Homo sapiens: one gene and its partners. The protein of the gene in region 3 purifies or fractionates together with the protein of the main gene of each other region. This does not show direct contact. Each region holds a gene or a part of one and is shown on either strand. Other genes may lie near its edges.

Region 1 (4,026 bases), on a different chromosome or scaffold from region 3:
GTTTCTTGGTTTTTATGAAGATATTAAGGAATCCTTAAAATCCACCCACAAGGCCAGGCTTGGTAGCTTACATCTGTAATCCCAGAACCTTGGGAGACTGCAGTGGGCGGATTGCTTAAACCCAGGAGTTCAAGACCAGCCTGGGCAACATGATGAAACCCTATCTCTACAAAAAATATAAAAATTAGCCAAGTGTGGTGGTACTCACCTGTAGTCTCGGCTACTCCGGATGCTGAGGTGAGAAGATTGCTTGAGCCCTGGAGGCAGAGGTTGCAGTGAGCCATGATTGCACCACTGCATTCCAGCCTGGGTGACAGGGCGAGACCCTGTCTCGAAAAAAAAAAAAAAATCCACCCACAAAATAAGCTTTCAGATTAAATCTCCATGTACTGATTTTTTAAAAAATGTTGTCTGAGTAAATCATACAAAGTAAACCAAAAAGGAAGAAAACAGGTGAAGTCCAGGCTATAGTCAGATTGTATTTAGGTCTATCTTGTATGTTGCCTGAGACTGTAGAGGAACTAAGAGAAAGGAGCTAGGTCCATATGATTGTCAAGGCTGAATAAATGTTCAATAGAACAGATTACTAAAAAAAAAATAGACACCAATACCTTTTGTTTTCTATTTTCCCATCCACAGCTGTAGCTAGAACAGCATTTCATTTGAGGATTTAAATACATAATCCCCCATGTAAACAAAGGAACATCCAATTTGAACATGAGCACAGGTGTGCATGTAATTTAAAAGGTTCATGTGCTGACAATACTGGACACTTAAGTACCAGCCATTGCAAAAAAAAAAAAAATTATTTGGCTCCTTGCCAAAGAATTATCAACATTTTTGAACTATAAAACAAAAACTTTTGTTACTATGAAAACAAAAAGATCCTGGGCTTTTGTTATTTAAAAAAAAAAAAGTATGTCAGAACACACATGAATTTTGGTAAGCTGGCATTGTGAGCCAACAAGTCTACACACCTGCCACAGCAAGTTGGAAGATGCATCTTTTAGAGAAAACCATGCTTTGTTAAGTCATATCATGTGGTTAAAATCTAGTACTTTCCCAGTAAAAGCCTCCTCGGGCTCAAGCTTAAAACTGGTCTATTAATGTAGTAGACCTTTGTTGTTTGCACTGTCTGGAAGCTGTTAACCACTCTCTTCCTCCCCTCTACCCCACACTATTAGGGGAAGATAGTTTCAATGTTCCTTTGGAAAACTGCCCCAGTAAATAAGGTAGGGTTGTTTTCAAACTAAAGGTCCAGGGTGAAGCACATAACCCAGGACTTTGTGCCTCTGAATCCAGCTGTGTCATGCTCCTGGACTTTTCAAATAAATGAGTACCAAAAAATGTCTTTTTTCAATTTTGGTTACATTAGATTTCTCTTAGTACAATAAAAGAGTTCTATCACAGCAAATATGACAGTGTTTTTGAGAAACATTATGAAATAGTAAGTACTCTATGTGTTCAGAATCATAATCTCATCCAAATGAGATGCATTTCTTAGTGAAGTAATGACAAATCCCCTTCAAATGTATTTTTTAAATGCATTTTACCTTTCTTTTAGGGAAAATAATTGCCTACCCCTAAAGATTATCCCCTTAGAAGACTAAAATTAGTTCACAAACACTAAGCACACAGACAGAAAATTCCTTAAGAATAGGGGGTTTGTTTTAAACTTCCACAGAACCTTCCACACCAAAGGTATCTAATAAATGTCTAATCAACAGACATCCAAAGGTCATGGGAAGGGAAGTGGTTCCAATGGATACTTGGTGTCAGAGAAAAGTCAAGTGACTGTTGCACATATCCTGTGGATAGCCCGTAAGTCAAAAACTATGCTAGTTTCAAAACAGGCTCTGCAGAAGGATGAGCTAGACAGACACTTCCCTCTATTTGACTCAACCAACAGCCCAATCCACAGGAATATGTGCAGTAAACTCAGCACTACCCTAGGAGGGTCAGGGTCTAAACTCTGCTGTACTGGGGTAAATTACTATTCTAGGAGGGAACAATACATTCAGAATAACAACTAACAGTTAAGCTGGAATAAGAACGGGAAATCACAATAGGGCGAAAGCGAAAGGACTCTGGACCAGGAATTCGTGACCTACCAAAGCTAAAAGAGCTGCTGCCGGTTATTACCGGGCAAATCACTAACATCACTGGAGCCTCAGCTTTTCTAATCCATTAAATGGTTGGTTAATCTAAATGAGGTGTCCTAGACCGTTGGAATCTGTGGCCTATTTTTCCTAGGGGAATGGCCTATAACTTGCTATTTTCCAAAGGGCCGAGAATAGTTTAATGTGCAGTAAAGGACGCTGGTGGGAGGGGGGTAGAAGGGGGCTGAGACCCCACCCCACCCCGCCGCCTGCAGCAGGCTCCCGGACGGCTCGGGGAGCGTCCCCCGCCTGGGTGCCCACCTGATTCCCTTGGCCTTCAGGACTAGACGCGTCCTCTCAGCAAACGGGCAGAACCTCATGCTGTAGATGCGGATCGAGCCCTCCGGGACCGGCCCCGGGGGCGCGCTTCCTGCCGGGGAGAAGCGAAGGCGATTACGGCCCAGAGAGGTGTCGAGACCCCCCGTATCCCACCGCCCCCGCGTCCCACTGCAGCTCCGACCCGTTCCCCGCCGGTGGGGCGCTCCCGGGCGGCTGGGCTCCCGGAGCAGCCTCGAACATGCCGCCGGGGGTCGCCGAGATCACCCCCTCTTCGCGGCGGGCAGGCCTCACCCTTCCCCAAGCTCCTGGCTGACTCCCCGGACATCGTGGCGCAGCGCAGGCCGAGCTCCTCTGGGGTTTGCAGGGGATTCAGGAAGTAGGTGGCGCGTCCTTCCCGCCCTCCTTCCCTCCCCCGCTTCCTCCTTAGCTCAAAAGTGCCTGCCCCCGGCGGCCGCCAGCTCCACCCGTTGTGCCTTCCCGGCTTTATGGGATAGCCCTTAAAACATCTTAAGGGGCTGTGTCAAAGCATCTCGCTGGCCAAGGGCTGCACCCACGGGGAGATACACAAAAGTTATAAATGCTCAGTCATCCCTCCGCCCCCGAACGAAGGGGTCACCACTCCGCACTCCACGGGGCTCCACGTCTGACCCTGACCCTGACCTCCCTCCCGTGACACTGACCTCGAAGCACCACCCGCTCCGTCCCAAGGCTTCACGACTTCAGAGCCTGTGGCCCGACCTCATGGCTCACTCACCGGTCCAGAGCGTTCTCTCCAAAGGCTCCTGTTCAGCTTGTGAAGGGAAAATAAAAATCTCTTGACTCCAAACTCACTATGCCAAAGGGAAGAGTCAAGCTTGGAAACTGAGTCAGGCAACACTGCCTCCCATTTTGTTGCTAAATAGCTACAAAGATCAAAGGCCACACACCTCCCCAAGGAAATTCCTTGTTGGCCCGCAAGATCTTTACTCTAAAACAGATCAGTTGAATTTCATCTTGGCAATGTAAACTAACAGCTTATCTTCCCAAGTATGGGACAAAGACAGGTCTAGGAGTCATCCTTCCTCTCGCTGGAGAAAAATGCAATTTGACCGCTTCCTCTACCCTATATTTAATCTTGTAAAAATGCAGATTCACCAAGCACTAGACGAATGCATAACTGACTATTCCTCTACGACCTCCTTTCACGAATGTAACATGCGCATTCAGTGAATGCTGATCAAAGGCCCCAAAGAATGCAACTACTCTCCCCTTTTATCTACCTTCCCTTTTTACTTTCCACTTTCCCCTACTGCCTGCTCTTTCCCTTTAAATATTGAAGTCCTCAAGCCCTCTTTGGAAAGAGCACAGATCACAGATGTTCCTGTGATTTTGTGTTCCTTTTTCTCAGATGTGTCCTCAACCTTGGCAAAATAAACCTCTAAAAGGATTGAGACTCACCTTGGTCATTTCCTTTGATTTACAAGCTCATCTATGCCTCGCTGCAGGGTTGCCCAGCCACCTGGACAGGCTTTTCCTTTTTCTGTCAGTACTAGCTTAACGTGACTACTGGGAGGGCCTCTGTCCCTACCGTCACCTGTAGGATACATCC
Region 2 (3,500 bases), on a different chromosome or scaffold from region 3:
TATTTGGACACACTGCCCAGCAATACGCTCTAGCTGTGTTCAGAAGCATGGGAATTTGGAAAGATCTGCTGAGCATGCCGTTTACTGTCACAGATACTATCTTCCTCAAAAAAAAAAAATATATATATATATATGGGGGACGGGGCAGGTTGAGACTGGGTGAGACTGAAGAGGTGCCTTGGCCAGAGCAGGCCACACCCAGAGACCACAGGCTCCCCGGTCCACCTCAGGCCCCTCCCCTTCCTGCGCCGTTTCCGGCAGATCCAGAGTGGCCACCGCCGGATGGGAGTCGGGGGAAGGGAGGCAGAGAAGCGGGCCCTGAGGACAAGCTCTCAGTGCTTCTGTGGGAAGTGGCGGCAAGACGGCAGCTCCCAGCGGGGGATGGAGGCCGAGTCAGTCTGCTGGTCACTGGAGGCCAGGATGCTGCCTAACACAGCCGTCCCGCTCCGGGCCTCACCACCAGGGCGGCTCTCCCCACTCCCGGCCTGCTGCCCACACAGACTGCGGGGTTCCGGGGGAGCAGGACCCAGGCCGTTCTGCGCCTGTCTTCTTGGAAGGAGCAGGCCGGAGCGCGGGAGCGCCGTGTAGCTGTACCTGCGAAGGCACAGGATTCCGCGGGAAGATCCCGCAGTTTCGGGCCGTCGTCATTGTTTTTATACCTGTGGCAAATGGCATGACCAGACACACGGTTATGTCTGGAGAAACCCCTGTAGAGGAGCAGGAGGTTGTGGACATGCTGTGGCCCGGACAGTGGCTGCCGAGCAGTTGGAGCCTGCACCCGCCCAACTTGGCTAAAGAAGTCCCCATACTCTCTGTGGAAAAGATTTCCAGAAGCTGTTGTGTCAATATCAAAGCCTCAAAACAACAACAACAACAACAAAAACATGAAATTATCAACAATAAAGATCATCCTTGAGTCTGCTTTGAAAAGTAGGGTGAAATTCTGCAGAGGCATTCAACTGGCAAGATACCACCCTCATAGCCAGATCTGCAGGTCTCAGCCATCATGCCAGGGAAAATGCTCCATTCACCACTCCTCAGCTTCTGCTTCTGGTTTCAGAGGTCTCTGTATTGGAGGGGCTTTAAAGCAAGAAGGGTCTTTACCCACTTACTCTTATTCACAGATGTGAATATGCAGGTCCAGTGGGGAAAGTGACATGTCCTAAGTCAGAATAGAGTCAACAAGAAAACAGGGCCCAAAATGACTTAGCCTCTAGTGTATAATGGGCATTGATGAGCTACTGGAAATACAGAGATGAAGAAAACACAGTCCCATCTTCAAGGAGCTCAATCTAGCAAGGGAGACAGACTCTTTGTAGGTGGGACCGGGCTTCCCTGCAGCAGAAGGAAGCTTGAAATTGGTAACGAGCCTCAGAAGGGACAGAGGCAGGCCACCATGCTACCCTGAGAGGATCGCATGTGGACACGGGGCTATGACCTGGCCCTGCTTTGACCCACTAGCTGTGCTGTAGGGCCAGGTGGAGCCTGGAGTGGCCTGTGCTAAGGGGCTACTATGAGCTCTTTCCACTCCCCCAAGGCATTGCATAAATAATGTCACTTTCTGTTTGCACAGCAAAATCAGGGACACAATTTTCTAGAACATGGGGTGCCTCCCCTCCCCCCAGCCCAACAGAAGTTCTACAATGACTGATGGGCCCTTGTTTTTGTTTGAGACGGAACACCCCACAGGGTTCCGAGTGGTGATTTGTGGCCCACAGGCCACTGGCAAGTGGAGGCAGAGCTGCAGAGCCCTCGGGAGCCACAGAGGGCCTGCTGGCCGCCACGACATGCCAACTCAGCTGCTGCTGGCCCTCCTGTGGGCGGCAGTGCTAGTGATGTGCAGAATCTTAGGACTAGTGCCAAGGAACCTATAAATACCCTGGGTGACCCAGGCGTGCACTGCTGTGGTGGCCTTCACAGTCAGAAGATGACAAGCTGAGAAGGGGAGAATCGGCCCAAGGTGAGATCCACAGAAAGGCCAGGGCCAAGATGCGGCCAGCACCTCAGGCTGGTGGTGGTCTTACGTTGACCATGCCAGAGGCCAGTCCTTGATTGCTCCAAACCCTCTGTTCGAGGGTTCCAAATGAAATGAGCAGGTCCTCGTGTCAGGACCTAGGTTAGTTTCTGAAAAAGCATGAAAAGCAGGCCTCCTGAACTTCCCCGAGTGACTGATGCAAAGTGCGTCCTGCATGCTTCACAGCACCATGGAGAGGATCTTCAGGGGCAAACTGCAGACTATCTGAATGACGGCACTGACCATCAGCAAACCGCAGAGCTGCCTGACCAAGAAATTGCGAGACAGAAGCAATGCTTGCAGGCGAAGAAGAAGGGGCCAGACACAGTGGCTCACGCCTGTAATCCCAGCACTTTGGGAGGCCAAGGCAGGCGGATCACTTGAGGTCAGGAGTTTGAGACCAGCCTGGGCAACATAGTGAAACCCTGTCTCTACTAAAAATACAAAAAATTCGCCAGGCATGGTGGCAGGCACCTGTAATCCCAGCTGCTTGGGAGACTGAGACAGGAGAATTGCTTGAACCCAGGAGGCGAAGGTTGTAACGAACTGAAATCGTGCCACAGCACTCCATCCTGGGCGACAGAGTGAGACTGTCTCAAAAAAAGGAGGAGAAGAAGGAAAGGCCAAGGCAGGAATGAAACAGGCCATGAATGTTGGAGTGAAGCAACTGGCCTCCTCGTGCTAAGCGGCTACTGTGAGTTCTTTCCACTCCCCCAAGACATTGCATAAATAATGTCACTTTCTGACACTCACCCCGCTGAATGTCCTGCCTCTGCTCAAGGGTGGTATGATGGGGACTTGGCAGTGGAGGGGAACAGGGAAACCAGACATGGTGGTCTCCCCGCTTCCTGGCTACAAGTCCCTCTGAAGAAATCCAAAGGAGTAAAGAGCTTGGAGAGTAGGCCTCTGTAGGGTGCAAGGGCACAGCTGGAGACGGAGCTCCTGAGGCTGCAGCTGATGCTGCCCGCTCTGCCTGAACTGCACCAAAAACGTGATGAGGCCATAGCGGGAGTCCACGGAGGAGGATGCCTACTGCCCGACCTCTAGCAGAGACTAAGCAAGGTGCATGAAAACTTGAACCACATGTGTCACACCCATGACCACTACATGAAGATGGCCCAAAACCTGGCCCAGGAATTGAAGAAAGACTCTTCCAATTTGCTGTAAGAAAATGGCCCAGGGGGCAAGCACGGTAGCTCACACCTGTAATCCTAGCACTTTGGGAAGCTGACGCAGGCAGATGGCTTGAGCTCAGGAGTTCCAGACCAGCCTGGGCAACATGGTGAAACCCCGTCTCTACCAAAAATACAAAAATTAGCCGGGTGTGGTGATGCATGCCTGTGGTCCCAGCTACTCAGGAGGCTGAGGTGGAAGGATTGCCTGAGTCTGTGGGGCAGAGGTTGCAGTGAGCTGAGATCACACCACTGCACTCCAGCCTGGGTGACACAGTGAGACCCCATCTCAAAAAAAAAAAAAAGAAAGAAAA
Region 3 (4,058 bases):
GTCACAAAGTGACATAGATCCTCCAGATGAGAGTGGGATGTCCTATTCTCACTACTGCTACGATTACAAAGAGCAGACTTTCTGACAGCTCATGACTTGAGACTACAGTTTTTCAGCCCCAGGTCCTTGGTGTAAATGAACACAAGCTCTTTTCAGAGGTTCACACCCCAACAGAAGATGAATAATCCCCAATCTGATTATTCAAGAGATAATGCAAAATTATCTTTTTTTTTTTTTTTAAGATTTCTTCCTGGAAAGAGAGAAACATTCCTGATAAAATGCTTATGCAATTTCTGGATGAACTTTAATGGGATCAAGTGTTGTTCTGGTAACCAGGCACCCACTCAAAAGTCCCTCAAGATATTAATGACCTGGAACCGAACGAATATCTTTTTTTTTTGAGACAGAGTCTCCCTCTGTCGCCCAGGCTGGAGTGCAGTGGCGTCATCTCTACTCACTGCAACCTCTGCCTCCCGGAACCGAACATCTTTTTCTAACCATGACTATCCTACCACCTGCTAGAAAACGGCCCCACGGGACGCGGTGGCTCACGTCTGTAATCCCAGCACTTTGGGAGGACAAGGTGGGAGGAACGCTTGAGCTCAGGAGTTCGAGATCAGCCTGGGCAACATAGTGAGAACTCCGTCTCTGCAAAAAACAAATTTTATATACATGTATGTGTGTGTGTGTGTGTATATATATATATGTATATAAATATATATATAGATATAAATATATATATATAAAATGTCGGGTGTGGTGGCAACGTGCCATAGTCCCAGCTACTCGGGAGGCTGAGGTTGGAGGATCGCTTGAACCCGGGAGTTTAAGGCTGTAGTAAGCTGAGATCGAGTCACTGCACTCAAGCCTGCGTGACAGAGCGAGACTCTGTCTCAAAATAAAACAAAAGAAAAAGGAAAAAAAACGGCCCCGAGGCTATGAGTGTACTGGGGCCTCTCCCTGGGTTTCTACTTCTCTCCCTATCTCTGTTCCTACATGAGTATGTCTGTGTGTCTCTGAGCGTCTGTCCCTCGCACTTTGAGTGTCTCCCTGTTCTCTGTTTTTTCTGGGTCTCAAAGCGTCCAGGCATTGCACTCTGGCTTTCCTCGGTCTCGCCCTCGCCCCAGTCCCGCTCGGCGGTCCCCCGCCCTCTGCCCCAGGCGTCCGTGGCCCCTTTAAGGCGTGCTCCGCCCCCGCCCCGCCCTTCCCGGGGTCAGTGCCGTAGCGCCCGGCTCCTGCAGGCGCTCGGCCTCCGCTCATTCCTGACCCCGCAGTGGGCGCGATGGCGGAGGCTGTACTGAGGGTCGCCCGGCGGCAGCTGAGCCAGCGCGGCGGGTCTGGAGCCCCCATCCTCCTGCGGCAGGTGCGGGTGGCTGGACCTAGGAGGGGACTGCTGGGCACTAGGCGGCAGCAAGGACGGAACTCCGGGGTCTCTTAATAGGGAGAGATCCGGGGGGACCCACGCCTGCATCTTGCGGAAAGCGGGGTGGAGGTTTAGGGCTGGACTCTTGGGTCCTTTAAAGGTGAGTGGTCTGGGGGCCTCTGGGCTTGGGGCCAGACCCCTGGGTCCTCTATGAAAGAACGTGCTGGGGACCCTGATTTTGGGATGTTAGGAAGTTGGAACTCTTTTGTTCTGATAGGGGAAGGTAGTGGGGCTCCGGACTCCCGACTCCCGGGGAAAGAGTGGGCTGGGGTTTCTGCTTCTGGATCTTAGGAAGAGGATAGGGTCAGTCTGGACTACTTGGCCTCCAGTGGGTGGAAGTCCGGTTCTGCGCCCTCACCTGGGTCCCCCGTTCCCAGATGTTCGAGCCTGTGAGCTGCACCTTCACGTACCTGCTGGGTGACAGAGAGTCCCGGGAGGCCGTTCTGATCGACCCAGTCCTGGAAACAGCGCCTCGGGATGCCCAGCTGATCAAGGAGCTGGGGCTGCGGCTGCTCTATGCTGGTCAGTCCGGGGACCAAACTCATGGATCCCAGCGGGGCTGGGCTGCAGCGTCAGTGGAATGGGAAGCTGGGGCCCAGAACTCCTGAGTCTGAGGGAGAAGGATCTGGGCTGGGACTCCCAGGTCCTTTCTGTACCCTCCGGACCTGTCCCTCCTCTCTCTCCCAGTGAATACCCACTGCCACGCGGACCACATTACAGGCTCGGGGCTGCTCCGTTCCCTCCTCCCTGGCTGCCAGTCTGTCATCTCCCGCCTTAGTGGGGCCCAGGCTGACTTACACATTGAGGATGGAGACTCCATCCGCTTCGGGCGCTTCGTGAGTTGGGTGCTGGGTCCCCAAGAGGGTGGTGGCCTGGACTTCTTAAACTTAAGGGAAGAGGGGACTGGGGGCCTGGGATCCTGAGTCCTTGGGGAGGAGGGACCTCAGGACCTGGGTTTCTGACCCCTGAGCTCATATTTCTGGGAGGGGGGCACCATAAACCCAGGTGGGGCACTGGGGCAAGAGGCTCTGGGCAGGTGGGGCACTGGCGGAACTCCTAAGTCAACAGCATTTAAGGAGTTTCCTTCCTAAAGCTTAGGGGCAGCCCTTTGGCCTGGCATGCATCTCCATAAAAGTTGATTAGGGGCTGGAATTCTGAGGGCAGGGCTGAGAAGGAAAGAGACCCAGTCCTGTCTTGCGGAAACCTCCGTTTGAGGAAGGAGCATCTGGGTGCTTAGAACCCGGAGCCCAGGACTAGGAAAAGGACGGTGAGGACCCTGGAGTGCAACATTTAAGGAGGCACTCGCTCTCAGGGTCCTGTAAGTGCAGGGTCCGCACCTGTGAGTGAGCGCCTCCTTAAATCTTGCACCAACAGCCTCACCCTAGTCCTAGCCCTGCCGTTGCCTCACACTGGGAAGTCTAAAGGTTCCTGCCTTCCTCACTTTATTTGCCACAGGCACCAGCGGGTTTCCGGCCAGAATTGCAACCAGGCCGAAGGAGGGAGGGCCAGGGGAGTTGCCCTCAGAGAGAGGGAAACAGCTGGCAGGGCATTCTTCTGATCAATTGCTAAAGATGTATAATAAAGTTTGGCTGACTTTGGGGACAGAATGTCAGGTGACAGAAGACAGCCTCCAGGTTAGAGAGTTTTGCCAAATAGGGACAGTTCATTTGAGTCAGAGTGTTTAGAGGAAATGAGGGCTGTGTGTGGGAAGAGAGTTCAGCTACAATGGTTACAGAAGCTTTATTTCAAGCCTTTCTCTGGAAGCAGGCAAAAATGCATTGTACATGTATGTACATTGTACATAATAGGTGCTAACAAACATGTCTTGAAATGAACGAAGGGTTTAGCTATGGTAGATTTAGCTTCAGTGTTTTTTTTTTTTCTTTCTTTCTTTCTTTCTTTTTTTTTTTTATTTGAGACTGGGTCTCTGTCACCTAGGCTGGAGTGCAGTCAGCCTTGACCTCCCAGGCTCAGGTGATCCTCCCACCTTAGCCTCCCTGGTAGCTGGGACCACAGGCATGCACCAGCACGCCTGGCTGATTTGTGTATGTTCTTGTAGAGACAGGGTTTTGTTATGTTGCCCAGGCTGGTCTTGAACTACTGGGCACAAGTGATCCTCCTACCTTGGCCTCCTAAAGTGCTAGGATTACAGGGCTTCTGAAAGTGCTGGGATTACAGGCATGAGCCACTGCACCCACCCTTTTTTGTTGTTGTTGTTTGTTTGTTTGTTTTTGAGAAAAGGTCTTGCTCTGTCACCCAGGCTGGAGTGCAATGGTGGGATCATAGCTTACTGCAGCCTTGACCTTCTGGGCTCAGGTGATCCTCATGCCTCAGCCTCCTAAGTAGCTGGGACTACAAGCACCTGCCACCATACCTGGCTAATTTTTTAATTTTTTGTTGAGCTGTAATCTCACTATGTTGCCCAGGCTTAATAGCTTTATTGATATAACCCACATACCATATAATTTATCTATTTCGAGTGCACAATTCAATGACTTTTAGTATATTCAGAGTTGTACATCCATTACTACCATTAATTGGAAAATGTTTCCATTACTCCAAAAAGACCCCACACCCCTTAGCCATCACCCCTATCCTTCCCTTTTCCCCCCTCAGCCTTAGGCAACTTTTTTTT
Region 4 (3,500 bases), on a different chromosome or scaffold from region 3:
TAGGAAGCCCCCCAGGAATAGACCCTGGTTGTGAGGCTGTCTGAGGAGGCCTTTTGTCTCCCGGTAGGAGCACGTTTGCCGTGGACGGGAAAGATTGCAAGGTGAATAAAGAAGTGGAGCGTGTCCTGAAGGAGTTCCACCAGGCCGGGAAGCCCATCGGGTGTGTACAGCCGTGCAGGCCTCGGGGAGGGAGGGAGGAGGGTGCGTGGGCCCGCGGCCTCTGTTCTCAGCCAGGAGCTGCCGCTGATCCTGAAAACTCACAGCTGCTTTTCTTGTTTTAACTGAGGGGATTTCACACGATGTCACTGGTGACTTAACAGGAAGGAGAGGCACAGTGCACTTCCCTAGAGGAGGCCTGGAATTCTCTTGGCTCCCAGAGGTGTCCCTAGGCAGTCCCTCAGGACCCCTATCCTTTACCAGACCCCTTCTCCCAAGCCCCTTAGCCACAGTACCCCCAACCCCGCTGACTTCTGGCCAGTCACTGCAGCACGTGCTCCATCCCTGACGCCATCCACTCCCAGCGGCCTCCCTCCTGGGGAGCCACAGCCAACCACGCCCCTTTGTCCCTGCTCAGACAAAGCCTGGGTCCTGAGGTTGGCGGCACGAGTAGGGCGCCCACTCCTTCATCCACGTAAGCGCCTTGGCTTACGTGGCGGGTCGCAGCCCCGCAGGGAGTGTGTGCTCTTCAGCGTCTGCTGCCGGGAAGTCACTCTCAGATGTGTGAGGGTGACCCAGCAAGGCCGGGTTCCGCCTCGGCAGGTGTGATGCTTCCACGAGCCTCCCGGCACCTGCTCCTTGGTGGTCCTGGAACGCGGCGCTGTGCTGTCCAGGTCTCAGCTGCGTCTGGTGCTGGCAGGGCGAGAGCCGCACTTGCGTGGGTGAACATCAGTGAGGCGCACTCGCGATGGCCGCTCACTACCGAGTTCTGTCAGCCGAACAAGGATGAGGATCTATCGGAATCCTCTGTCTCCCCATCCACAGTCACTCACTTAAGGACCTGCCTGGTCACTGTCCAGGGAGGCCCCTAAAGTGGAGCCTCAGGAAGAGGTGCAGGCTCAGAGCTCCTGAAGGAGGTCCCTGCTGCAGCCGTGTCACAGCCGGGGTGAAGGTTTCGCCCATGGTCTCCACCTCGGGATCCCGTCCTTGTCAGAGAAGTGTTCCTTGGATGAGCGCCCAGAGGGAGGAGCCCATGGCCCTTTCTTCTGTGACTGATTAAAAATCTCGATGAAACAAGACAGCCCCTGGCAGGTGAACCACTGCCTCTGAGCATGCCTCCCCTGAAAACAGTGTGGGGCGCAAGCCCATCTCCTCCCCAATCCAGCCATGAGGCTCCCCTGGAAACAGCACAGGGCGCAAGCCTGTCTCCTCCCCGGTCCAGCCATGAGGCTCCCCTGAAAACTGCAGGGCACAAGCCCGTCTGCTCCCCGGTCCAGCCATGGGGCTTCCGTGCACGGTGACCCACAGGCTTTTTTCCTGAGGAAACCTAAATCCTTTCCCACTGGCCCCACCCACCCCTCAGCCTGGTGTCAGAGGCCTGCGTGGCCAGCCAGGGGCTGTTAGGCGGCCCAGCCGCTCACTGCTGGGACCCCTTCCTTGAATGCAGTAGTCGAGGTGGGCGCTGGGCTGTGCCAGGAGCCACTGTGGCATCTGTAGCTGGCAGTTGATGGCTGGGCGGCTGCACGCAGCGTCGGGAGCTGCTGAGAACCTGCTTCCTGGACTTTCTGCCTGCGCAGAGGGCGGCAGGGGGGTTTCATCTCATAGGCAGCCAGAAGTTGCTTCAGGACATGCAGTTTTGGGGGCGGGTTTGTTTTGAGAGTATCGCTCTGTTGCCCAGGCTGGAGTGATCTTGGCTCACTGCAACCTCCGCCTCCCGGGGTCAAGCAATTCTCCTGCCTCAGCCTCCCAAGTAGCTGGGATTACAGGTGTCTGCCACCAGGCCGAACTTTTGTAATTTTAATAGAGACAAGTTTTCGCCATGTTAGTCAGGCTGGTCTCGAACTCCCGACCTCAGGTGTTCTGCCTGCCTCAGCTGCCCAAAGTGCTGGGATTACAGGCATGAGCCACTGCACCTGGCTGTGAAATGTGTTTTTAACAGTGTTTCGTTACAGCTCACGGTAGCAGTTTCCACCTGGGCCTGTCGGGAGTGGGTAGGACTGTAGACAGCGGGAGGAGGGATGAAGGGTGCGGGGTGTTGAGGGCAGGGTGGGGCCTGACAGCTGTGGGCTACACCACAGGTTGCCAGGGGATGGGGCTGCTGTTAATGAGGCCGTACTCCTTCCACTGTTGCCCCTGGGTGGCCATGAGGCGCTGGACGACACAGGTCACTGAAGGCCCTGCTGTGGGCACAGTGCCTGGCACACAGGGGCCTCTGTTGACTTGGCAGGGAGGGGTTCCTGATGAAGCAGAAGCAGGTCCCAGGGGTGGGTGTGGCAGGACCCTCAGTTTCAGGGCTGCTGCGGCCTGTGCGTCAGGGTCAGGGGCGTGCGTCCACCAGCCTGCACTTGTTGAGAGTTGTGCTGCAGGTCGGAGGCTGGCGAGGCTGCTCCTGGCCCGTTGTGCCTCCTGTAGAAGGGGGGCTGGTGTGAATGAGAAGTGCAGCTGTGTTATCTATTGCTGGGTCACAGACCACCCCACAACTCAGGGCTGGGGCAGCCGCACATCATTACCCTCTCTGTGAGTGGACTTTGGCAGCCCGGGACTCTCGCCAGTCTGGGGTGTCCTGGGGCTTGGGGCTTAGCCCATGGCTGTTGGGGGTTCCCCTCAGGGGTCCTTGGCCTGGTGCTTGAGTGCCTGCAGGGCGTGCTTGGCGGGGAGTGGGGCTGAGGACACCTCACTCTCAGCCTTGAGTCACCTGGTGCCACCTCCATCACATCCCATGGGCCACAGCCTTCTGGCAGCGCAGGCTCACAGGGGGCAGGGTCGGCAGGGCTCCCGTGGCAGGGCAGCCTGGGGTCATGGCGAGGGTAATTTCTGTTCTGCAGGCCATGCAGCCTGCCTGACCCGTGTTCTTTTCGCCTTTCAGCTTGTGCTGCATTGCACCTGTCCTCGCGGCCAAGGTGCTCAGAGGCGTCGAGGTGACTGTGGGCCACGAGCAGGAGGAAGGTGGCAAGTGGCCTTATGCCGGGACCGCAGAGGCCATCAAGGCCCTGGGTGCCAAGCACTGCGTGAAGGAAGTGGTCATATCCTTCCTGGTAGCCAGGCCCGGCCCGCTGTCGTGCTTGTCCCTGAGACGTGCATAGGGACGCCCCTCCCTCCGGGCTGTCTTGGTGGGTGGCCTCTTCACCGGGAGCTGCACCTGCTGCTCTCCCTGTGGGGCCTCCCCCAGTGGGCACCGCAGCCATGTGTCTAAGGGCAGAGAGCAGATGGCTGTGACAGCCCAGCTGGTGTGAGGTGGGTCACAGACACGTCAGAAGCGCAGCTCTGGTGCGTGGTTGGCAGATCTGGCAGATCCAGGTCCCTTGCCTGACTGTTTAGTCTGCTCAGCAACACCCAGGCAGCCA
Region 5 (3,500 bases), on a different chromosome or scaffold from region 3:
TAATTTATGGAAACTATTGTATTAACATTTAGATCTAGTTCCTAACAGTTTTTTTTTTTTTAACACATTGAGACCATGCTTGTCTATACATAGTATTTTGCCCTCCAGAGACGAGGGAATATGTCTTATGCCACTGCCTGTGGTGCTGTGTGTACCGCTTATGCAAAGCAAGCTTTCAGTGAGCATTTTAATAAATAAATAAATACTGCTTTTATTTATCATTATATTGCAAACTCTGCGGCCTTAAAGGCATTATAAACATTTGCTGCCGATTTAGATCATCATTGTAGTCCTTGCATCTGGAACAGTGACAGAATAGGGACTCAAATGATTTGTTGAATAAATAACCATATCCTGTTGTTGAATGTTTATTAAGCATTTGAAAATACGCTCCACCTTTTCAGTATCAGGGAATTGAAGACAGTAGTGAAACATGTCATGCTGGTGAACCTTAAAAGTTGGATAACAAGTTGTGTGTATGTGCTTGTGTGGTGCACATGTATGCTGCAGATGGGAGTATAAAATGGTACCAACACTTTGGAGGAGTAACTATCAGTACCCAGTCAAGCTATGGGTGAACAGAGCCTAAGACCCAGCTGCGTGACTCCTAGGTATATATTCTAGAGAGGGGGATCTGCAAACTTACCCTAGTAAAGGGCCAGAGACTAAGTACGTCAGGCTTTGTGGGCTGTGTGGTTTTTGTTGCATCTATTCAACTCTGCTGTTATATAGCCTGAAGTCAGTCATGGGCAATATGTAGATGAATGAGCAGGCTGAGTTTCAATAAAACTTTATTTATGAAAATACAGCTTTAATTACGAAGTAGACTGGATTTGGCCTGAAGACCATAGTTTATCTGTCCCTGGCCTAGAGACTGACTTCTGCATGTGTGTGTTAGGACATGGGTCCCCAACCCCCAGGCCAGGGATCGAGGACTTACAGCAGGAGGTAAGCGGTGGGTAAGTGAGCTTTACCGCCTGAGCTCCGCCTCCTGCCACATCAGTGACGACATTAGGTTCTCATAGGAGCACAAACTCTATTGTGAACTGCACATGTGAGGAATCTAGGTTGTGCGTTCCTTACGAGAATGTAACTAATGCCTGATGATGTGAGGTGGAACCGTTTCATCCCGAAGCTATCCCCACCCTTCCCTGGTCCGTGGAAAAATTGTCTTCCACAAAACCAGTCCCTGGTGCCAAAAAGGTTGGGGACCTCTGTGTTAGGATACCTGTGTTGGCGCGTTCATTGCAGCATGGCTTGCAATAATGAAAAACTGACAGGAAGGGATCTTGGTCTATTAGCAGCAGACCAGATAAATAAACTTTAGTCACATGATGGAAAGCTAAACTGTAGTTAAAATGAACTAGATCTAGATGTATTTAACATGGCTGAATCTCAAAAATACAATATTTAGTCAAAAAGCAAGTTGCAAACACGTAATTATGGCATAATACCATTTGTATATGTAAATGTTAAAGGCATAAAACAGTCCCATATATTGCAGATATGTGTGCAGTGCACTTGTAGCTCCTGGGCAGGAGTGAGATGGCAGCTAGAGGGTAGAGGCCACCTCTGGTGAGGGACTCAGGTAGCATGTGGTTAAGAGTCTGGGCTTTTGTACTCCTGGAAGCCTGGATATAAATCCTGGTTTCACTGCGCTGTCACTGTGAGTTTCGGTAAGTTACTTAACCCTTCTGAGCCTTAGTTTCTTCATCTTATGTAAAGTAGGGATAATTGTACCTGCCTTGTCAGATTTTTGTAAAGATTAAATAAGATTATTTTTGTAAAACGCTTAAAGAGTATGAAACTCAGTAATCCTTAACTCAATAAATGGTATATATATATATATTTTTTTTTTTTTGAGAGAGTGTTACTCTGCTGCCTAGGCTGAAGTGCAGGGGGCAATCTCGGCTCACTGCCACCCCTGCCTCCCGGGTTCAAGCGATTCTCCTGCCTCAGCCTCCCAAGGAGCTGGGATTGCAGGCACCTGGCACCATGCCTGGCTAATTTTTTTTATTTTTAGTAGGGACAGGGTTTCACCATGTTGGCCAGGCTGGTCTTGAACTCCTGACCTCAGGTGATGCACCAGCCTTGGCCTCCCAAAGTGCTGGGATTACAGGTGTGAGCCACCGCACCTGGCCTGAATGGCGTTTTCATTACTTTAGGGTATACTTAATCACTTTTTCCTGCTTTATTTTCCTATGCTTTTTCTGTTGCCTTTCTCAGAAAAGCATTACTGTGAAGGGTGGGTGGTGGAGCATGTTGGTATGGAGAGAATGTCCACACTGTACCTGGTACTATGCTGGGAGCTCAATTCATTTCATTCCTTAGATATCATGGAATCTTCATAATATGTGAGGCGTAGAGTATATTCCCATTTTACAGATGAGGAAACTGAGGCTAAAAGATTAACAGATTTGTCTGAGGCTACATTTACAGGCTAGCAAACCAGATCTACTGATCCTTAAGCCTGTGCCTTGCCCACTCTGCCCCGTGCCTTGCTTTTCCTCTAGTGAGGGTCTACTGATTTCCGTGCTTTCAGCTCAGATCATCTTATCTCGACTTAACGCCATTCTCTAAATTAGAGAATATGAAGAAATTGTGACTCTCAGAGGTGGTGTAACTTGCCCAAGATCACAGAGTCTAGTAGGTAAGAGACAGAGTTGGAACTCATATCAGATTCTGAAGCTACTGTAGTGAGGTTCTACCAGGAAAAATAAAAAGAAAGAAAACTATGATTATGCTGCTCTCGTAATTTAGTGTCCAAATCAGGAGTAATGCCCAGTGTTCTGAATGTGATGAATTTTGAAAAATACCTTTTGAAAGTTCTGGAAGGGAATTTTAAAGTATCATTTCTGTACTCTTTCTGGGTTGATACTTTGGAATATGAATTTGTTTGTATGGGTTTTTTTGGTGGAGCATTAGATGCGTGTAAACTGACTTTGTAAGATAGCCTCCTAACTCCCAGTTCCTAGTGTTACTCTGCCATATAACTTTGCAGTCAGCATTTTCTGCCCCAGATGGAATCACCACCGTCTATCACATATGAAATAATGATTATCATTAAAATTCATTCTTGGATGTGATTTTCTAATTTTCAGGAGTAGCTCTCTGATTCTGAGTTAATTTCAAGTGATATTTGTAAGAACTACCACTGCATATTGCAGTTTTTGAAAACTAAAGTGTGAGAGAGATTAACCATGTGTAAACAGTTACTTGTGGATCCGCAGGATTCATTTTAATATTCAACTTATGAAGAGTAGTCTTTTATTATTATTAGGAGTTTCTCACTTCACTCTATAGGAAGCAATTGGGTATTTCCTTAAATATTTAAACTGGTAATCAACTTTCTTAAAAATGGAAAAGAGCATAGTCATTAAGAAGGGTGCCAACGTTTGGCCTTGATGCCAGCTGCCTATTACACCTATTCATCTAAAAATTAAAGAAGCAGCTAAGTTTAATTTTGATAAACCGTCAGCTGCTGTCAAGAACAGGCAGGT
Region 6 (3,500 bases), on a different chromosome or scaffold from region 3:
TCACATATTTGATTAATACACTGGGGCAGAAAAAGGCTTTAAATTATATATGCTCTCCAATTGTGTGATTACTGTATAAAAAGTAATTGATTATAATTTTATCTAATCCTGCCAATTTCTACTTTACAAACAGTATTCCCCAAATAAAAAAGAAAACTCTAGGAGTGAAGAAGAGTTTGTTAGAAATAAGGATGCAATTTGATAGCTTTATGGCCAGACACCCAAGAATTGCCTAAATGTTCTCCCTACTACCAATTCCAACTCAATTTTTGATCCTTCTTTGTCTTCACCAGAACATTCCAAAGGAGCTACTTGCATAATAGCAAGTGAAAATCAAAGTGAGACTCTATTAGTTGGGCCACTGCCTCCAGTGCACTAACACGAAGCTGTCGTGATAGCTAGGTAGATGGGTTGGTTCGGAACGTGGCTTAGAGTCATTTTTCTCTTAGGCTCAAATTTGTCAAATTTGACAAGTGAGCAGGCTATCCTCTCCTGTATACTTGATAATGATTATTACAGTGTACTCTGTGCCACCTTGGTGGCCCTTAGAGTTGTATGTTTAAGCTGCAGATAATTTGCAGAGCATTGGCTGAAACACATAAAATCACATGCTTGGATGCCACAGCAATGTCAAATCGCTATATGTTCTTAAGCACTTGTGGCTCAGTCACAAACACAACTTGCAGACTAGCACCTGTTTGTGGATCACACTTTGAGTAGTACTGAGTTTAAGTCACTAATATTTTAAACCTTAATAACTTACACCTATCCCTGCAGAGGGGAATAGGTTCATTATATAAGATTAATCAGAAACCATCCCATATACATGGAGGACAATAGTGAAAATAGTCAAATTTTAATTTCAAATTACAAATGTAAGCCCTCTAGGACTGCTGGACATGCAGTGGATGCTGACTTTTCTCTATAATTTTTTTTAATAGGTGGTATTAAAGATGGTCACTGAGATTAAGAAGATTCCTGGTATTTCTCGAATTATGTATGACTTAACATCAAAGCCCCCAGGAACTACTGAGTGGGAGTAATAAACTTCTTGTTCTATTAAAGTACCGTGTGCAGTTTAAATTGATTAGAAATCATTCCCATTATTGACATGCAGTACTGTGAAAAGAGTTACTGGAGCAGCTACATCACATCTGAGTTCTCCACAGCAAAAATCTACGGCTTAAGAGCTGAGTTGGGGATAACCAAAAGGGACTGAAGAGTTTGTACGGGTAAATAATCAAAGCACCATTGCCTACACTCAGACAGATTGATACTGCTTTTGCCTTTGCCTCACTTATTCTTTATGTATAAATTCACTGTTGATGTCTCTGTGAATATGTATGAAGGTGGGTGAATTTGGGGGTAATTATGGGCTTCTGTCTCCTTACCAGTTTCTAAGAACTGTTAGAAACGCCCATTATTTACCAGTGTTACTTACTACTTATATATACTTTTTGGAGAATCAGTTTTCTTATAAGTAATCTTATTTCTCCAAAGGGTGAAAAAGAGATGAACATATCAGATAAAGGTATAGGTGGGCTATTCCAGCCACTTTTGAAGGACACTGAGGGTATAAAATGTAAGCTACCATAAGATGGAAAAGCACCAGGAATTTGTTGATGTACTTTTGAATTTTATTTCACAGCCTTGGGAGGAAGAAACTATGAGTGGTCTCAGATGTCTATGAATGGTCTTAAAATGTTTTCAAACCATGTTCCACATAGATGCCATGTTATTCAATGTCAGCTTGTTTATTAGTAAGGAGCTTTATCCTCCTAGCCTTATATTACCAGCCCCCCACAGCCTTGCATAGAAAGTTTCTGTTATCTCCTTAGAAGAAACTGGCTCAATGACGTTTCTGGTGTAGTGCAGATAGAGGTCAAGAGGAGCATTTTCATCTCTTCTTTTGCTGGTCAGAGAAACGGTTCTGAGATCACAGAAGCTATGATGCATACCTACAGCTTACAAAAGGGAGAGGAAAAATGTTTATATCATCTAGTAAACAGTTGTAAAATGAGCTTTTAAATCTAATCTATAGACATATTATTCATTGCTCAGACACCTGTGAACAGTCTTGATACATGCAAGATGTTTGCCAAACTTTGTAATCCTTTCTACTAGCTATAAGAGAGGATTTAAGAACTGGTGTAGGACTTGTTGCCATCACCACCAGTTTCTAACAGATCTTTTATAACATTCACATAAGTACTGTAGACAGTAGTAGACTTAAACTCTCCGTTTCTCTCAGTATTTTAGCTAAGAATGTTACCATATTTTTCTCTTAACAATTCCATCTCAGGTTGCTGCTGCTTGTCTAGTTTAAAAGGTCAGATCTATTAATCAGGAATGAAATTTTATTTGGGATTCAGTGTTAGACAAACAACAAAATGATGCGTGGCAGAAGTCATCTTTTTATTCTGGCTGGTCCAGGGAACAAGAAAACTGCTGCTGGACCAGCAAGGGAAGAGTTTCTGTCTGTCTTAACAGAAATCTGTCCCCAAGACAAAGGGGTACTTGACTCCTACAAAACTTAAAGGGTACATTCTCTATCTGATGAGGAGGTACTCATTATGGCCTTCTGGAAAGAGGCTATGTTAGTGATCTGGTCTTTACAGATTTAGAGTCATGTTATTTGAAAGCTAGAATAGACAACCTATAAAATGCTTACCAACATGTGTCAGTACACGTTTATGTTTATATGAAAAAAAATTTCTAGCCACAGTGTCTTATGATTTTGTATTGAAGCAAACAGTAGGAATTTTGGAAAAATAGAGAGTAAGAATGTGTGTTCTATGGAACACTGCTCCACTGAGAAGGTCCATGTAAAAAGGATTAGGTGGTCATATAAGTTTGGGGAACATAAGCTCACTTGTCCTTTCCTGGAGATTCATGGTATATAATATTCAAAGCTCTGAGAAATTCTGAAGTTAAAAACAATTGTTAAATTCTGCTTAAATTAGTGTTTTCCTGATATTTGTTTTTTGAACACCTTTTATATAATCCCTTCTAATATATACTTAGTATATACTTAATATAATATTGGGAAAATTGTTACTCCAAAGCACATCTTGACATGACATAGTTTCTTAAAAATCCAAATTTTCTGGAACTCAGAAATTTCCTAATATTTAGCACACTGTCTTCTTTTGCACAGCACTTTTTGCTTTGTGCCATATAGCATTACTCTGTACCTTCACAGTATTTCATCTGAGCCACTGAGGAAAGTTAAAGGTTGCACTTCCATTTTACAGTTAAGAAAACAAGCTCACCTTAGGCATGGTTACTTAATTAATTTCAGAATTAAATTTCAGGTTTCCTTAGTCCAGATTGTCCTGATGTGTATTCTGACACCTAAAATTATATAAACATTTATGGGATGCTTATTTTACTAAGACTAGAATGGTGGCTACCTGGCTAATAACATTCATCATTGGTTATTCTGGGCATATCATGACTTTATTCCCGTTGCTTACCATCTACCTGGGACACATCTCTCT
Region 7 (3,500 bases), on a different chromosome or scaffold from region 3:
TTAGATGACTTCTCCCTCACCACCCTAAAAGCTCTTCCACAGACAGGGCCCTTGTCTTAGAGCTCTGTGAACACACTCATGACACAGTGAGTGCTTATAAATACCACAACCACAGATGCCCTGCAGAAGGTCAAGGAGCCCGGCTACAAGGAACTAAAGAAGTGTGGCATACAAGAAAATTAACCAGGTGTGGTGGCGCATGCCTCTGGTCCCAGCTACTTGGGAGGCTGAGGCAGGAGAATTGCTTGAGCCCCAGAGGCAAAGGTTGCAGTGAGCAGAGATCGTGTCACTCACTGCACTCCAGCTTGGGCTACAGAGTGAGACTCCTTCTCAAAAAAAAAAAAAAAAAAAAGAAGATATGTGGCAGGGACAGGGCGGGGGTTTTAAAGGAACTCTAGATACCTCTTTGGTAAGTCCCACAAATGCCCACAGAATTAAAGCTCCCAATCAGAAACCATCTCAATCTCTCCAGGGGGAAAGCAGAAATACTCACCAGGCCTCAATTCACCAAGGGCCTAGACTTGAATATTTCATGATAAAAATAAATACTGCAAATATAACTCTAAAGCTCACTTCCCCAATGTTGTCCTTAGAGAATTAAAAAACTAAACCAAAAGATTCATTTCTACCTCTTCCCCCAACTCTTTTAAAACAGTATTGAAAGGGTTTTCTTGGCCAGGCGCAGTGGCTCACGCCTGTAATCTCAATATTTTGGGAAGCTGGGGCAGCTGGACCACTTGAGGTCAGGAGTTGGAGACCAGCTTTGCCAACAGGGTGAGACCCTGTCTCTACTAAAACAAAAAATACAAAAATTAGCTGGGCATGGTGGTGCGTGCCTGTGATCCCAGCTACTTGGGAGGCTGGGGCAAAAGAACTGCTTGAACCCAGGAGGTGGAGGTTGCAGTGAGATCATGCCACTGCATCCAGACTGAGCAACAGAGCGAGACTCTATCTTGAAAAAAAGGTTTCCTTGAACAACTACCACTTACCTGCTATCTGGGGAGATGATGGGAGGAACAAGCAATTTTCACAACTGGTTTGGTTTTTTTTTTGAGACAGAGTCTCGCTCTGTTGCCCAGGCTGGAGTGCAGCAGCGTGATCTCGGCTCACTGCATCCTCTGCTTCCTGAGTTCAAGCGATTCTTCTGCCTCAGCCTCCCAAGTAGCTGGGACTACAGGCGCACACCACCATGCCCGGCTCATATCTGTATTTTTAGTAGAGACGGGGTTTCACTACATTGGCCACACTGTTCTCAAACTCCTGACCTCGTGATCCACCCATCTCGGCCTCCCAAAGTGCTGGGATTACAGGCGTGAGCCACTGTGCCCGGCCACAACTGGTCTTTTTTAAACGTATGAGCTAAGGATAAAGGCTGGGGTGATGGATGCCGCGGGCCATCTGCAGGGGCTGGAGACAGAAATGAATATTCACCAAGTGCCTCTACCCTGCACTGGATTTGCCCCAAGTACTTTATCCACACAATCCCACGACTACCCTGTGAGGCAGAAGGCATTGTGCCCATTTAATGGATGAGGAAACTGAAGCTCTGGAATGCTAACTGTTTTGCCCAGGGTCACGCAGCAAGGTGGAATTCCAGGCCTGGCTCCAAAGCTGGTGCCCCTTCCTCTGGCCCAGGTGCTGCAGAATAAAACTAAAGAGGTCGGGTGCGGTGGCTCACGCCTGTAATCCCAGCACTTTGGGAGGCCGAGGCAGGTGGATCACAAGGTCAGGAGATTGAGACCATCCTGGCTAACACCGTGAAACCCCATCTCTACTAAAAAAAAAAATACAAAAAATTAGCTGGGCGTGGTGGCGGGTGCCTGTAGTCCCAGCTACGCAGGAGGCTGAGGCAGGAGAATGGCGTGAACCCGGGAGGCGGAGCTTGAACTGAGTGGAGATCGCGCCACTGCACTCCAGCCTGGGAGACAGAGCCAGACTCCGTCTCAAAAAAATAAATAAATAAATAAATAAATAAATAAATAAATAATATGGAAACCATTCTCCCTACCTTTAATTTACTTGGGAGGCTGAGGCAGGAGACTCGCTTGAACCTGATTCTCCTGCCTCAGTCTCCCAAGTAAATGGGATTACAGGTACACGCCACCATGCCCAGTTAATTTTTTGTATTTTAGTAGAGACAGAGTTTCACCATGTTGGCCAGGCTGGTCTTGAACTCCTGACCCCAAGTGATCCACCCACCTCGGCCTCCCAAAGTCCTGGGATTACAGCCGTGAGCTACCATGCCTGGCCCATTCTCCCTACCTTTCAAGACTTCCAAAATGAAGATATTCTACAAGGGGAAAATCTGTCCCTACTCTCAATCTTAGAAATGGCCTATTCCTAAAATAATATCAGAAACTATTTGCAGTGTGTGTGTTTTTTTGTTTTTTTGTTTTGTTTTGTTTTTGAGACAGAGTCTCGCTCTGTTGCCCAAGCTGGAGTACAGTGGCGCAATCTCGGCTCATTGCAAGCTCTGCCTCCCAGGTTCAAGCGATTCTCGTACCTCAGCCTCCCGAGTAGCTGGGTCTACAGGCGACCACCCACACACCCAGCTAATTTTTTTCTATTTTTAGTAGAGATGGAGTTTCACCATGTTGGTCAGGCTGGTCTCAAACTCCTGACCTCAGGTGATCTGCCTGCCTTGGCCTCCCAAAATGCTGGGATTACAGGTGTGAGCCACTGCGTCTGGCCTTTTTTTTTTTTTTTTTTAAGACAGAGTTTCATTCTTGTTGCCCAGGCTGGAGTGCAATGGCACAATCTTAACTCAGTACAACCTCCGCCTCCCAGGTTCAAACGATTCTCCTGTCTTAGCCCACAAAGTAACTGAGATTACAGGCATGCGCCACCACACCTGACTAATTTTGTATTTTAAGTACAGACGGGGTTTCACCATGTTGGTCAGGCTGGTCTTGAGCTCCTGACCTCAGGTGATCCACCTGCCTTGGGCTCCCAAAGTGCTGGGATTACAGGCATGAGGCACCACACCCGGCTCACAATGCTTTATAACACATCAAACAGAGTCAAAACAACTTTTCAAATATTAGGCCTTCAGAACCCTTCTTAACTGAAGGGTAGTTATTAATTACACTGTTTTGCAGATGTGTAACTAACTGCAGGACCACAGAGAGTTGAGACTTTGCCCGAAGCTACCCAGTAAGCCAGTGGCAGAAGTCTCCTAAGGCTCCTGAGGGTCCATCTGCTGCTTTTTTTTTTTTTTTTGAGACAGAGTTTCACCCTGTTGCCCAGGCTGGAGTGCAGTGGCGCGATCTCGGCTCACTGCAACCTCCACCTCCTGGGTTCAGCTGATTCTCCTGCCTCAGCCTCCTGAGTAGCTGGGATCACAGGCATGCGCCACCACGACTGGCTAATTTTTTTTTTGTATTTTTAGTAAAGATGGGGTTTCACCATATTGGCCAGGCTGGTCTCGAACTCCTGAGCTTGTGATCCACCCACCTCAGCCTCCCAAAGTGCTGGGATTACAGGCGTGAGCCACCACGTCC

The links.
Region 1: the proteins of ETHE1 (region 3) and GSTO1 fractionate together in Homo sapiens (co-fractionation; one large-scale study listed by BioGRID). This does not show direct contact.
Region 2: the proteins of ETHE1 (region 3) and FXN fractionate together in Homo sapiens (co-fractionation; one large-scale study listed by BioGRID). This does not show direct contact.
Region 4: the proteins of ETHE1 (region 3) and GATD3 fractionate together in Homo sapiens (co-fractionation; one large-scale study listed by BioGRID). This does not show direct contact.
Region 5: the proteins of ETHE1 (region 3) and GLRX5 fractionate together in Homo sapiens (co-fractionation; one large-scale study listed by BioGRID). This does not show direct contact.
Region 6: the proteins of ETHE1 (region 3) and GMPS fractionate together in Homo sapiens (co-fractionation; one large-scale study listed by BioGRID). This does not show direct contact.
Region 7: the proteins of ETHE1 (region 3) and ACO2 fractionate together in Homo sapiens (co-fractionation; one large-scale study listed by BioGRID). This does not show direct contact.

Annotation. Positions count from the first base shown.
Region 1 is NC_000010.11:104,253,666-104,257,691, reverse strand, and holds the start of GSTO1 (glutathione S-transferase omega-1), read right to left. Parts: upstream 2,801-4,026; 5' UTR 2,764-2,800; coding exon 2,730-2,763; intron 2,530-2,729; coding exon 2,421-2,529; intron 1-2,420. UniProt on the Homo sapiens protein: Exhibits glutathione-dependent thiol transferase and dehydroascorbate reductase activities. Has S-(phenacyl)glutathione reductase activity. Also has glutathione S-transferase activity.
Region 2 is NC_000009.12:69,066,752-69,070,251, forward strand, and holds part of FXN (frataxin, mitochondrial isoform 1 preproprotein), read left to right. Parts: intron 1-3,500.
Region 3 is NC_000019.10:43,524,402-43,528,459, reverse strand, and holds the start of ETHE1 (persulfide dioxygenase ETHE1, mitochondrial), read left to right. Parts: upstream 1-1,258; 5' UTR 1,259-1,282; coding exon 1,283-1,363; exon of another isoform or gene 1,364-1,523; intron 1,524-1,800; coding exon 1,801-1,945; intron 1,946-2,110; coding exon 2,111-2,259; intron 2,260-4,058. UniProt on the Homo sapiens protein: Sulfur dioxygenase that plays an essential role in hydrogen sulfide catabolism in the mitochondrial matrix. Hydrogen sulfide (H(2)S) is first oxidized by SQRDL, giving rise to cysteine persulfide residues.
Region 4 is NC_000021.9:44,140,183-44,143,682, forward strand, and holds part of GATD3 (glutamine amidotransferase-like class 1 domain-containing protein 3, mitochondrial isoform 1 precursor), read left to right. Parts: intron 1-67; coding exon 68-160; intron 161-759; coding exon of another isoform or gene 760-892; exon of another isoform or gene 893-981; coding exon of another isoform or gene 982-1,216; exon of another isoform or gene 1,217-1,233; intron 1,234-3,022; coding exon 3,023-3,179; intron 3,180-3,500.
Region 5 is NC_000014.9:95,538,050-95,541,549, forward strand, and holds part of GLRX5 (glutaredoxin-related protein 5, mitochondrial precursor), read left to right. Parts: intron 1-3,500.
Region 6 is NC_000003.12:155,936,650-155,940,149, forward strand, and holds part of GMPS (GMP synthase [glutamine-hydrolyzing]), read left to right. Parts: intron 1-941; coding exon 942-1,043; 3' UTR 1,044-3,500. UniProt on the Homo sapiens protein: Catalyzes the conversion of xanthine monophosphate (XMP) to GMP in the presence of glutamine and ATP through an adenyl-XMP intermediate.
Region 7 is NC_000022.11:41,475,617-41,479,116, reverse strand, and holds part of ACO2 (aconitate hydratase, mitochondrial precursor), read right to left. Parts: intron 1-3,500. UniProt on the Homo sapiens protein: Catalyzes the isomerization of citrate to isocitrate via cis-aconitate.